Linked DNA regions of Homo sapiens: all the other regions are reported to be linked to region 3. Evidence: microRNA targets listed by miRTarBase, many of them from high-throughput screens and not tested one by one. Region 3 holds a microRNA gene; each other region holds the end of a gene's coding sequence.

Region 1 (3,000 bases), not on the chromosome of region 3:
TATTTCATTACCCATTATAGGTTGTCTCCGGATACTTTCATCCAAGAGTTGAATAGTTGTAACACAGATTGTGTGGCCCAAAAGCTATAAAGTATTTACTCTCTGGCTTCCTGGCCTAATCTGTTGTTGAAACCTTGAGTTTTAGAAGAAGTCTTCATGTTTAAATTCTTTTTCTTGTTTTTGGGCAGGCAGAGAACATTTATAATGATGAAGACCCTGAAGGAAGCGTGGATCCAGAAGGACAAGGGTCCTAGATATGTCTTTACTTGTTGTGATTTTAGACTCCCCTTTTTTCTTCTCAACCCTGAGAGTGATTTAACACTGGTTTTGAGACAGACTTTATTCAGCTATCCCTCTATATAATAGGTACCACCGATAATGCTATTAGCCCAAACCGTGGGTGTTTTCTAAATATTAATAGGGGGGCTTGATTCAACAAAGCCACAGACTTAACGTTGAAATTTTCTTCAGGAATTTTCTAGTAACCCAGGTCTAAAGTAGCTACAGAAAGGGGAATATTATGTGTGATTATTTTTCTTCTTATGCTATATCCCCAAGTTTTTCAGACTCATTTAAGTAAAGGCTAGAGTGAGTAAGGAATAGAGCCAAATGAGGTAGGTGTCTGAGCCATGAAGTATAAATACTGAAAGATGTCACTTTTATTCAGGAAATAGGGGGAGATTCAAGTCATATAGATTCCTACTCGAAAATCTTGACACCTGACTTTCCAGGATGCACATTTTCATACGTAGACCAGTTTCCTCTTGGTTTCTTCAGTTAAGTCAAAACAACACGTTCCTCTTTCCCCATATATTCATATATTTTTGCTCGTTAGTGTATTTCTTGAGCTGTTTTCATGTTGTTTATTTCCTGTCTGTGAAATGGTGTTTTTTTTTTTGTTGTTGGTTTTTTTTTTTTTTTTTTTAACTTGGGACCACCAAGTTGTAAAGATGTATGTTTTTACCTGACAGTTATACCACAGGTAGACTGTCAAGTTGAGAAGAGTGAATCAATAACTTGTATTTGTTTTAAAAATTAAATTAATCCTTGATAAGAGTTGCTTTTTTTTTTTAGGAGTTAGTCCTTGACCACTAGTTTGATGCCATCTCCATTTTGGGTGACCTGTTTCACCAGCAGGCCTGTTACTCTCCATGACTAACTGTGTAAGTGCTTAAAATGGAATAAATTGCTTTTCTACATAACCCCATGCTGATGGGTTTTATTTAGTATAAAACATCCATCAAACACCAGTCTCTGGCTTCTAGAAGAGTCCTTCAGATGACAGTTGTTGTCCATGGTCTTTGACTATCAAGAGCAGAATTAAATGTAATAGTCCCAGAGCTGTAGAAAAGAACTTTACTCCTTCCCAGGGAAAGTGAAAGACATAAAACACTGAATCAGAGGTGGCACAGATTAGTCTTTGATAAGGTAACGTTTCTTTGAAGTCTATCTGTAGAGAACTACATGGACTTCCAAGAGTGTCAAAGGCAGTGTGGTAGAGAGAATTTAAGGCAAGATTTAAATTTGGAAAAGGTGCTTGAACCTTTTCTCAGAGGTTTTATTTCCCCAGTATGTTTTTCACTGGGGCCTTTACTTAGGTTAGAAATAATAGGCTTTGAAGGCCTCTATCACCAGATGCAATAACCAGATAAAATTCCTGTTTTTTCCCAATCGCTTAGTTTTTTGTTGTTGTTGTTTTTTAACTGAGTAGATCATTCTGACCCAGAACTACTTTCATGAGGTAAGATCTTTGGGAAAATCTGAATAGCGTTAACCATTAGATTCAAATCTCAAATGGTTTCTTTTCAAGTCTAGTTGTTTTAGAGTATAGTGAGAAATACCTTGACACAATTTTAAGAGTAAACTATATGGGTCAGCATATCCTTGAACAAAAAGTAGACTTTGTAAAAGTATTCATTTAAATTCTAACACTCGTGGCACAAAAGAATGGAAATTGTAAACCCATGTAATGGAAATTGGCTATCTTTTTGACCCCACATGTGCCCCTCAAAAATGTTTTTGGTTTGGGTCAACACAAGGCAAGATACATTCTTTAAAATACTCCCAGATGTGTCCATACATTCATCCTTCACTCAGTGCATATGTGAGGGTTGTTGCTGGAAGACAGGAGGCTCATCTTTCCTTTCCTTGGTGCATTGAGATCAGTATCAACAGCAGATGAAATAGAATCCAGCAAAGAGTTGACATGTTCTGCCTCCGGCCAACTCTAGAATCTTTTTAAGCAGGTCAGCCAGTATTTGCAACTTCCACAGGATGAATTGCTTGCCAAGTTTCTGGCACTCTTGTCTGGTTGGAAGAGTACATCCAAAGGGTACTTAGTGATCCTTTGCTAAGAAGTTTTTTGCTGTTTCCGGGTTACAGATTTGGCCATATATTTCTAAACAGCCCCTGTAAAGTTGAAAGAAAAAGTTTATAACAGTGAACTTCTGAGGTTTAGTTACTGCAGGCTTTGTTGAGAAGAGATTGTTACAGTGTGATTTATGGATGATCAGGGATGACTTTCCCCTAGCAAATATTTGGATGCCTCCTGTTTGTCAAATAGAATGAATGGTGATGGTGATGGGAGGGATAGTTAAACGTTTTCTCTGCTAGGTTAACTTCTTACAGGTATAATTACAATGCCTGAAATTCTGTAGTTTCATTTCTTTGGATTAGTCGTTGTCTTTTCCAGATTGTACACAATCTGATCAACACAAAGGTAGTTAGTAGATCATTAACCTCAATTGCAAGGTTATAATTTCTCAAACATTAAGCATATTATCAGTCATGTGGATTCAAACACAGTATAAGAAAATCCTCAAGGCTGGGTGTGATGGCTTATGCCTGTAATCCCAGCTACTTAGCAGGCTGAGGCAGGAGTATTGTTTGAACCCAGGAGGCAGAGTTGCAGTGAGCCAAGATCGTGCCACTACTCCAGCCTGGGCAAAATAGCAAGACCCGACCCCCCATCTCTACTAAAAAGAAATTTAAAAAAATAAA
Region 2 (3,000 bases), not on the chromosome of region 3:
CAGAGCTTCCGCAGTGTTGCTGCTGGCCCTTCCAGAGAGCACCTCAGGGGGCAGGATGCTGGGCCTCCAGCGCCTCTATTGCCCCACTCCCAGAGCAGTCCTGGTTAGCGCCCACCTCCTCTGGAGGCCAGCCGGGATCGCCTTCATCAGCTCATCCCAGATGGGCTTGCAGTCAGGAGTGGGGTTGAAGACAGGCTGTGCCTCACCAGCTGGGGACCTCGGACCAGCTACTTCACCTCCCTGTCCCCCAGCTCCCTGCACCCAATAAGACAGACAGACAGGCAGTCGCTGCAGGCTCCGAGTCCCTGGCGGGAATCTGCTCAAGGGGGTCGGATTTGGAGCCCACCCAGCACCTGAAGGCCTCCCTTCCTCTCTCCATGCAGGATGAGAACATCATGAGCTCCATGCAGCTGTTTGAGAATGTCATCTAGGACACGTCCAAAGGAGTGCATGGCCACAGCCACCTCCACCCCCAAGAAACCTCCATCCTGCCAGGAGCAGCCTCCAAGAAACTTTTAAAAAATAGATTTGCAAAAAGTGAACAGATTGCTACACACACACACACACACACACACACACACACACACAGCCATTCATCTGGGCTGGCAGAGGGGACAGAGTTCAGGGAGGGGCTGAGTCTGGCTAGGGGCCGAGTCCAGGAGCCCCAGCCAGCCCTTCCCAGGCCAGCGAGGCGAGGCTGCCTCTGGGTGAGTGGCTGACAGAGCAGGTCTGCAGGCCACCAGCTGCTGGATGTCACCAAGAAGGGGCTCGAGTGCCCCTGCAGGGGAGGGTCCAATCTCCGGTGTGAGCCCACCTCGTCCCGTTCTCCATTCTGCTTTCTTGCCACACAGTGGGCCGGCCCCAGGCTCCCCTGGTCTCCTCCCCGTAGCCACTCTCTGCCCACTACCTATGCTTCTAGAAAGCCCCTCACCTCAGGACCCCAGAGGGACCAGCTGGGGGGCAGGGGGGAGAGGGGGTAATGGAGGCCAAGCCTGCAGCTTTCTGGAAATTCTTCCCTGGGGGTCCCAGGATCCCCTGCTACTCCACTGACCTGGAAGAGCTGGGTACCAGGCCACCCACTGTGGGGCAAGCCTGAGTGGTGAGGGGCCACTGGGCCCCATTCTCCCTCCATGGCAGGAAGGCGGGGGATTTCAAGTTTAGGGATTGGGTCGTGGTGGAGAATCTGAGGGCACTCTCTGCCAGCTCCACAGGGTGGGATGAGCCTCTCCTTGCCCCAGTCCTGGTTCAGTGGGAATGCAGTGGGTGGGGCTGTACACACCCTCCAGCACAGACTGTTCCCTCCAAGGTCCTCTTAGGTCCCGGGAGGAACGTGGTTCAGAGACTGGCAGCCAGGGAGCCCGGGGCAGAGCTCAGAGGAGTCTGGGAAGGGGCGTGTCCCTCCTCTTCCTGTAGTGCCCCTCCCATGGCCCAGCAGCTTGGCTGAGCCCCCTCTCCTGAAGCAGTGTCGCCGTCCCTCTGCCTTGCACAAAAAGCACAAGCATTCCTTAGCAGCTCAGGCGCAGCCCTAGTGGGAGCCCAGCACACTGCTTCTCGGAGGCCAGGCCCTCCTGCTGGCTGAGGCTTGGGCCCAGTAGCCCCAATATGGTGGCCCTGGGGAAGAGGCCTTGGGGGTCTGCTCTGTGCCTGGGATCAGTGGGGCCCCAAAGCCCAGCCCGGCTGACCAACATTCAAAAGCACAAACCCTGGGGACTCTGCTTGGCTGTCCCCTCCATCTGGGGATGGAGAATGCCAGCCCAAAGCTGGAGCCAATGGTGAGGGCTGAGAGGGCTGTGGCTGGGTGGTCAGCAGAAACCCCCAGGAGGAGAGAGATGCTGCTCCCGCCTGATTGGGGCCTCACCCAGAAGGAACCCGGTCCCAGGCCGCATGGCCCCTCCAGGAACATTCCCACATAATACATTCCATCACAGCCAGCCCAGCTCCACTCAGGGCTGGCCCGGGGAGTCCCCGTGTGCCCCAAGAGGCTAGCCCCAGGGTGAGCAGGGCCCTCAGAGGAAAGGCAGTATGGCGGAGGCCATGGGGGCCCCTCGGCATTCACACACAGCCTGGCCTCCCCTGCGGAGCTGCATGGACGCCTGGCTCCAGGCTCCAGGCTGACTGGGGGCCTCTGCCTCCAGGAGGGCATCAGCTTTCCCTGGCTCAGGGATCTTCTCCCTCCCCTCACCCGCTGCCCAGCCCTCCCAGCTGGTGTCACTCTGCCTCTAAGGCCAAGGCCTCAGGAGAGCATCACCACCACACCCCTGCCGGCCTTGGCCTTGGGGCCAGACTGGCTGCACAGCCCAACCAGGAGGGGTCTGCCTCCCACGCTGGGACACAGACCGGCCGCATGTCTGCATGGCAGAAGCGTCTCCCTTGGCCACGGCCTGGGAGGGTGGTTCCTGTTCTCAGCATCCACTAATATTCAGTCCTGTATATTTTAATAAAATAAACTTGACAAAGGAGAGGGATTCCTGTTGGCTTTATCCTAGCTCTGAACTTCAGCTCAGCTCTTCCCACCCCTGCTGCCATTAGCCGTGGATCCTGCCTGGTGCTGTGCTGGTAAATGTTTGACAGCTGGCTCTGGGGGCAGAGAATGCCGCTCAAATTCTCAGGCTCACAGTGTGACCTCACTGAGGCCGAGTGAGGCCGAGATGCACACAGTGGGCCTTTGTGGCCTTCATGGGAAGCGCCAGCCCTGCAGCCTCCGCACAGACCCCACAGGGCAGGAGGACTTCTTCCTGAGGCACCATGTGTATTTCACCCCCAGATAATTTTTCTTTCCCAGTTCCAGGAAGTCATTCTGGGTGTCCCCTTGGCTGGAGAGTGAGGGTCACGGGGCAGAAGAAAGCAATATTTGCCTGAACACATCTCCTGGTGTTTATTTTCAGAAGTATAAGCCCTGTGAGGACAATGCCAGGGAAGGGACAAGAATGAAAGCCTGGGAGGAGGGAGGAGGAGGGTTCCCCAACTCACCAGTTCAGATTGAAGAAATCCAAACACGTT
Region 3 (3,226 bases):
GAGGACAATATAAAATCAAATATTAAATCATCTAGCAGGATCACATTTAAGTTACTGTACATAAGCATTAAGGGAAGGGTTTGAGGATAAATTGGATTGTCATTATTCAAAGCTTAAGAGAGGAAAAGGAGAAATAAAACCTTTACAAAAATATCCAGGAAAAGAGAAGTAAAAATGGAAGATGGAAAGTGAAGCAAAATTACAATAAAGAGTTTTATTTTAAATACACTGTCAAGATACAGTAAAATTTTAATTTAAAGATATCTTGTGGAATAAAGTTCTGGATTAGATTCCTTGATTGAGAGGTCTCATCCTTCAGATGTTGCTTTATATTAGTTACCATAAAAATGATAGCTGAAATTATGTGAAGAAATGAGTGTAGTGACAGAAAAGGATTAGAAAATGTCTTCTGTATATTTAGTGTTCTTTCCCCCAAGTCTTGAGGCACACCCACAGTTACATATTTTACATCATAGGAAATCTGAAGGAGTAAGAGGATTAACAAGAATTCGGCAAAAGTAGGAAAAGAGTGGTAATGCCAAAAATCTCAAGATGAGAGGGTTTCTACAGGTGAGGATAATTATAGGTGCCAGTTCTCCAGAAGAATGACAATGGGCAGGATTAAAAATAGGTTGTGGAATTGGGCTGGATGATGACTATTGGTGACCTTTTATCAAAAAGCTGGTAACCCCCACAAGAATTAAGTTACACTATCCAAATGTTTTTCAGATTTACTTGAACCCCTAACTTGTAGTTTTCTGCTACTTTTGCTACCATGTACGCACACACAAAGTCAAAAGCACTGAATTCATGTGTAGGCATTCCAGCCATTCTATGTTCAGCTCTACCCGAATAGCTCACTGTTCACCTCGTTGTTTTGGTATTTGATTGGTCTTCAGTATGACACCTCAAAGAAGCAATACTGTTACCTGAAATAGGCTGCGAAGATAACAGTATTTCAGATAACAGTATTACATCTTTGAAGTGTCATATTCACTGACACTGAATAAATATGGTGCATTTTCCTTCCCTTTCCTTCCCTTTTTTTTTTAGGTGTCCTCAGTGCCTGACAACTACAGAACATCTAATTATATATATAATTTTTGAAAAGTGTTTTGGAACATTGTTCATTAAACCACCATTTCTATACAAAAAAATTGCATAGTATTTTCTCAGTTACTATGACTAGTTTATTTTTTTCTCATGACTCTTATTTTTTTAGAGAAACATACTTTCACTAGAAGAGGTTAGTGGAACCATTTATTAATTGGGAAAATGTCGACGGCATGTTCATTAATAGTGCCAACTTTCTTGGAATTCACTCTTTCTCTTTCGTTAACACATCTTCCCTATGACCTTTTTTTTCTTTTATTTCATCTATAAACCCCATTTCTGTAGCATTTCTTTTTTTATCACACTAGTTTCTTTTCCTCCTTCTCTCTTTCTTGCTCCAATCCCTACCAATAATGTCATGATGCAGAGGCATTTGAAAATGAAGATGAAAAGATGGTCACTTTATTTAGCCAGTCAAGCTTATTCTACTGGGTGTCGCCAAAGCGATTTATCATTTTTATTTTAAATATATTCATGGTTGAAGTGTTTCAACGTTATTGGACAATTAGGAAGAATGTCCTTAACTCTTACAAGTTATTTTATAACTGATTTTTAAAATGCTGTTTTTCAGTATTAACTATGTTGACCTTAGAAAACTTTTACAAAAAATAGACTTTATGTTTTAGAACAGTTTTAGGTTCACAGCAAAAATGGAGCAGAAAATGCAGAGATTTCCCATATACCCTCTACCTCCACACATTCACAGCCTCCCCTACCGTCAATGTCTTATAATAGAGTGGTACATTTGTTACAACTGATGAACCTACATTGACACATTATTATCACCCAAAGTCCATAGTTTACGTGAGGGTTCACTCTTGGTGTTGTACATAATATGGGTTTTGACAAATGTGTAATGACATTTGTCAACCGTTATAGTATTATACAGAATAATTTCACTGCCTTAAAAAATCCTCTGTGTTTTACTTATTCATCCCTCCCTCTCCTTTAACCCTTAGCAACTGATCTTTTCACTGTGTACATAGTTTTGCTTTTACCAGAATGTAATGTAGTTGAAATCATACAGTATATAGCTTTTCATGCAGTATATAGCTTTTCAGATTGGCTTCTTTCATGTATTAATATGCATTTAGGTTTCTCTGTATCTTGTCATGTATATGTAGCTCATTTTTTTTTTAGTGTAGAATAAAATTTTATTGTCTGGTTCTACCACATTTCATTTGTCCATGCACCTATTGAAGAACATCTCAGTTGCTTCCATGTTTTGGCGATTATGAATAAAGCGACTATAAACATCCATGAACAGGTTTTTGTGTGAAGATAAGTTTTTTTCAGGTGTATAAATACCAAGGAGCACAATTACTGGATCATATGGTAAGATTATGTTTAGCTTTGTAAAAAAAACTGCCACACTGTTTTCCAAAGTAGTTGTACTATTTTGTATTCCCACCAACAATGAATGAGAGTTTCTGTTGTTCCACCTCCTGACCAGCATTGAGCATTGTAGGAATTTTGGACTTTTGCCATTCTGGTAGGTCTGAAGTGTTCTCTCATTGTTGTTTTAGTTTGCAACTACCTAAAGATATGTGATGTTGAACATCTTTTCATGTTTGTTTGCCATCTGTGTATCTCCTTTGGTGAGATGTCTCTTCAGATCTTTTGACTATTTTTAATTGGGGTTTTTGTCTTATTATTGAGTTTTAAGAGTTCTTTGCATATTTTGGATAACAGTTCTTTATCAAATATGTATTTGCAAATATGTTCTACCATTCTATGTTTTGTCTTTTCATTCTCTTAACAGTGTCTTTTACAAAGCACAAGTTTTTAATTTTAAGGAACTCCAGCTTATCAATTCTTTTTTTCTAGTATTATGCTTTTAATGTTATATCTATCTGTAAAATCATTGCAAAATCCAAGGTCATCTGGATTATCTTGTCGAAGCTTGATAGCTTTGTGCTTTATGTTTATGTTTGTGATACATTCTGAATTCATTTTTGTAAAGGACATAACATCTATATATGGATTCGTTTTTTAAAAATGTAGTTATTCAGTTGTTCCAGCACCATTTCTTGAAAAGACTATCTTTTCTCCATCATATTGCCTTGTTCTTTTGTATATTTGTGTGGTCTATTTCTGGGCTCCCCAGTCTGTT

Evidence for each region. The annotated mature microRNA hsa-miR-3942-5p reads AAGCAAUACUGUUACCUGAAAU and lies in region 3 at 915-936, shown strand. An mRNA with a match to its seed (bases 2 to 7 or 8) in the 3' UTR can be bound and repressed. Matches are read on the target gene's strand: a 7mer-m8 pairs with bases 2 to 8, a 7mer-A1 pairs with bases 2 to 7 and ends in A, and an 8mer does both.
Region 1: miRTarBase lists RBBP4 as a target of hsa-miR-3942-5p. The part of its 3' UTR that is shown has no 7-base or 8-base seed match.
Region 2: the mRNA of KCNIP3 is a reported target of hsa-miR-3942-5p. Seed matches in the 3' UTR shown: 7mer-A1 at 546-552.

What each region holds. Positions count from the first base shown.
Region 1 is chr1:32,679,452-32,682,451 of GRCh38, forward strand. It overlaps RBBP4 (RB binding protein 4, chromatin remodeling factor), which reads left to right. Exons shown (of 12, transcript NM_005610.3): 12 at 189-3,000. The coding sequence ends at 254. It overlaps SYNC (syncoilin, intermediate filament protein), which reads right to left. Exons shown (of 5, transcript NM_030786.3): 5 at 455-2,409. The coding sequence ends at 2,399. Among named protein-coding and RNA genes, the nearest start is that of SYNC, 22 kb to the right of the region's middle.
Region 2 is chr2:95,383,619-95,386,618 of GRCh38, forward strand. KCNIP3 (potassium voltage-gated channel interacting protein 3) reads left to right here. Exons shown (of 9, transcript NM_013434.5): 9 at 384-2,459. The coding sequence ends at 431. Among named protein-coding and RNA genes, the nearest start is that of FAHD2A, 18 kb to the right of the region's middle. RefSeq lists an enhancer at 1,749-2,649 and a silencer at 2,083-2,377.
Region 3 is chr15:35,370,031-35,373,256 of GRCh38, reverse strand. It overlaps MIR3942 (microRNA 3942), which reads left to right and starts at 893; the gene lies at 893-1,001. It overlaps DPH6 (diphthamine biosynthesis 6), which reads left to right. Exons shown (of 9, transcript NM_080650.4): 9 at 1,054-2,377. The coding sequence ends at 1,107.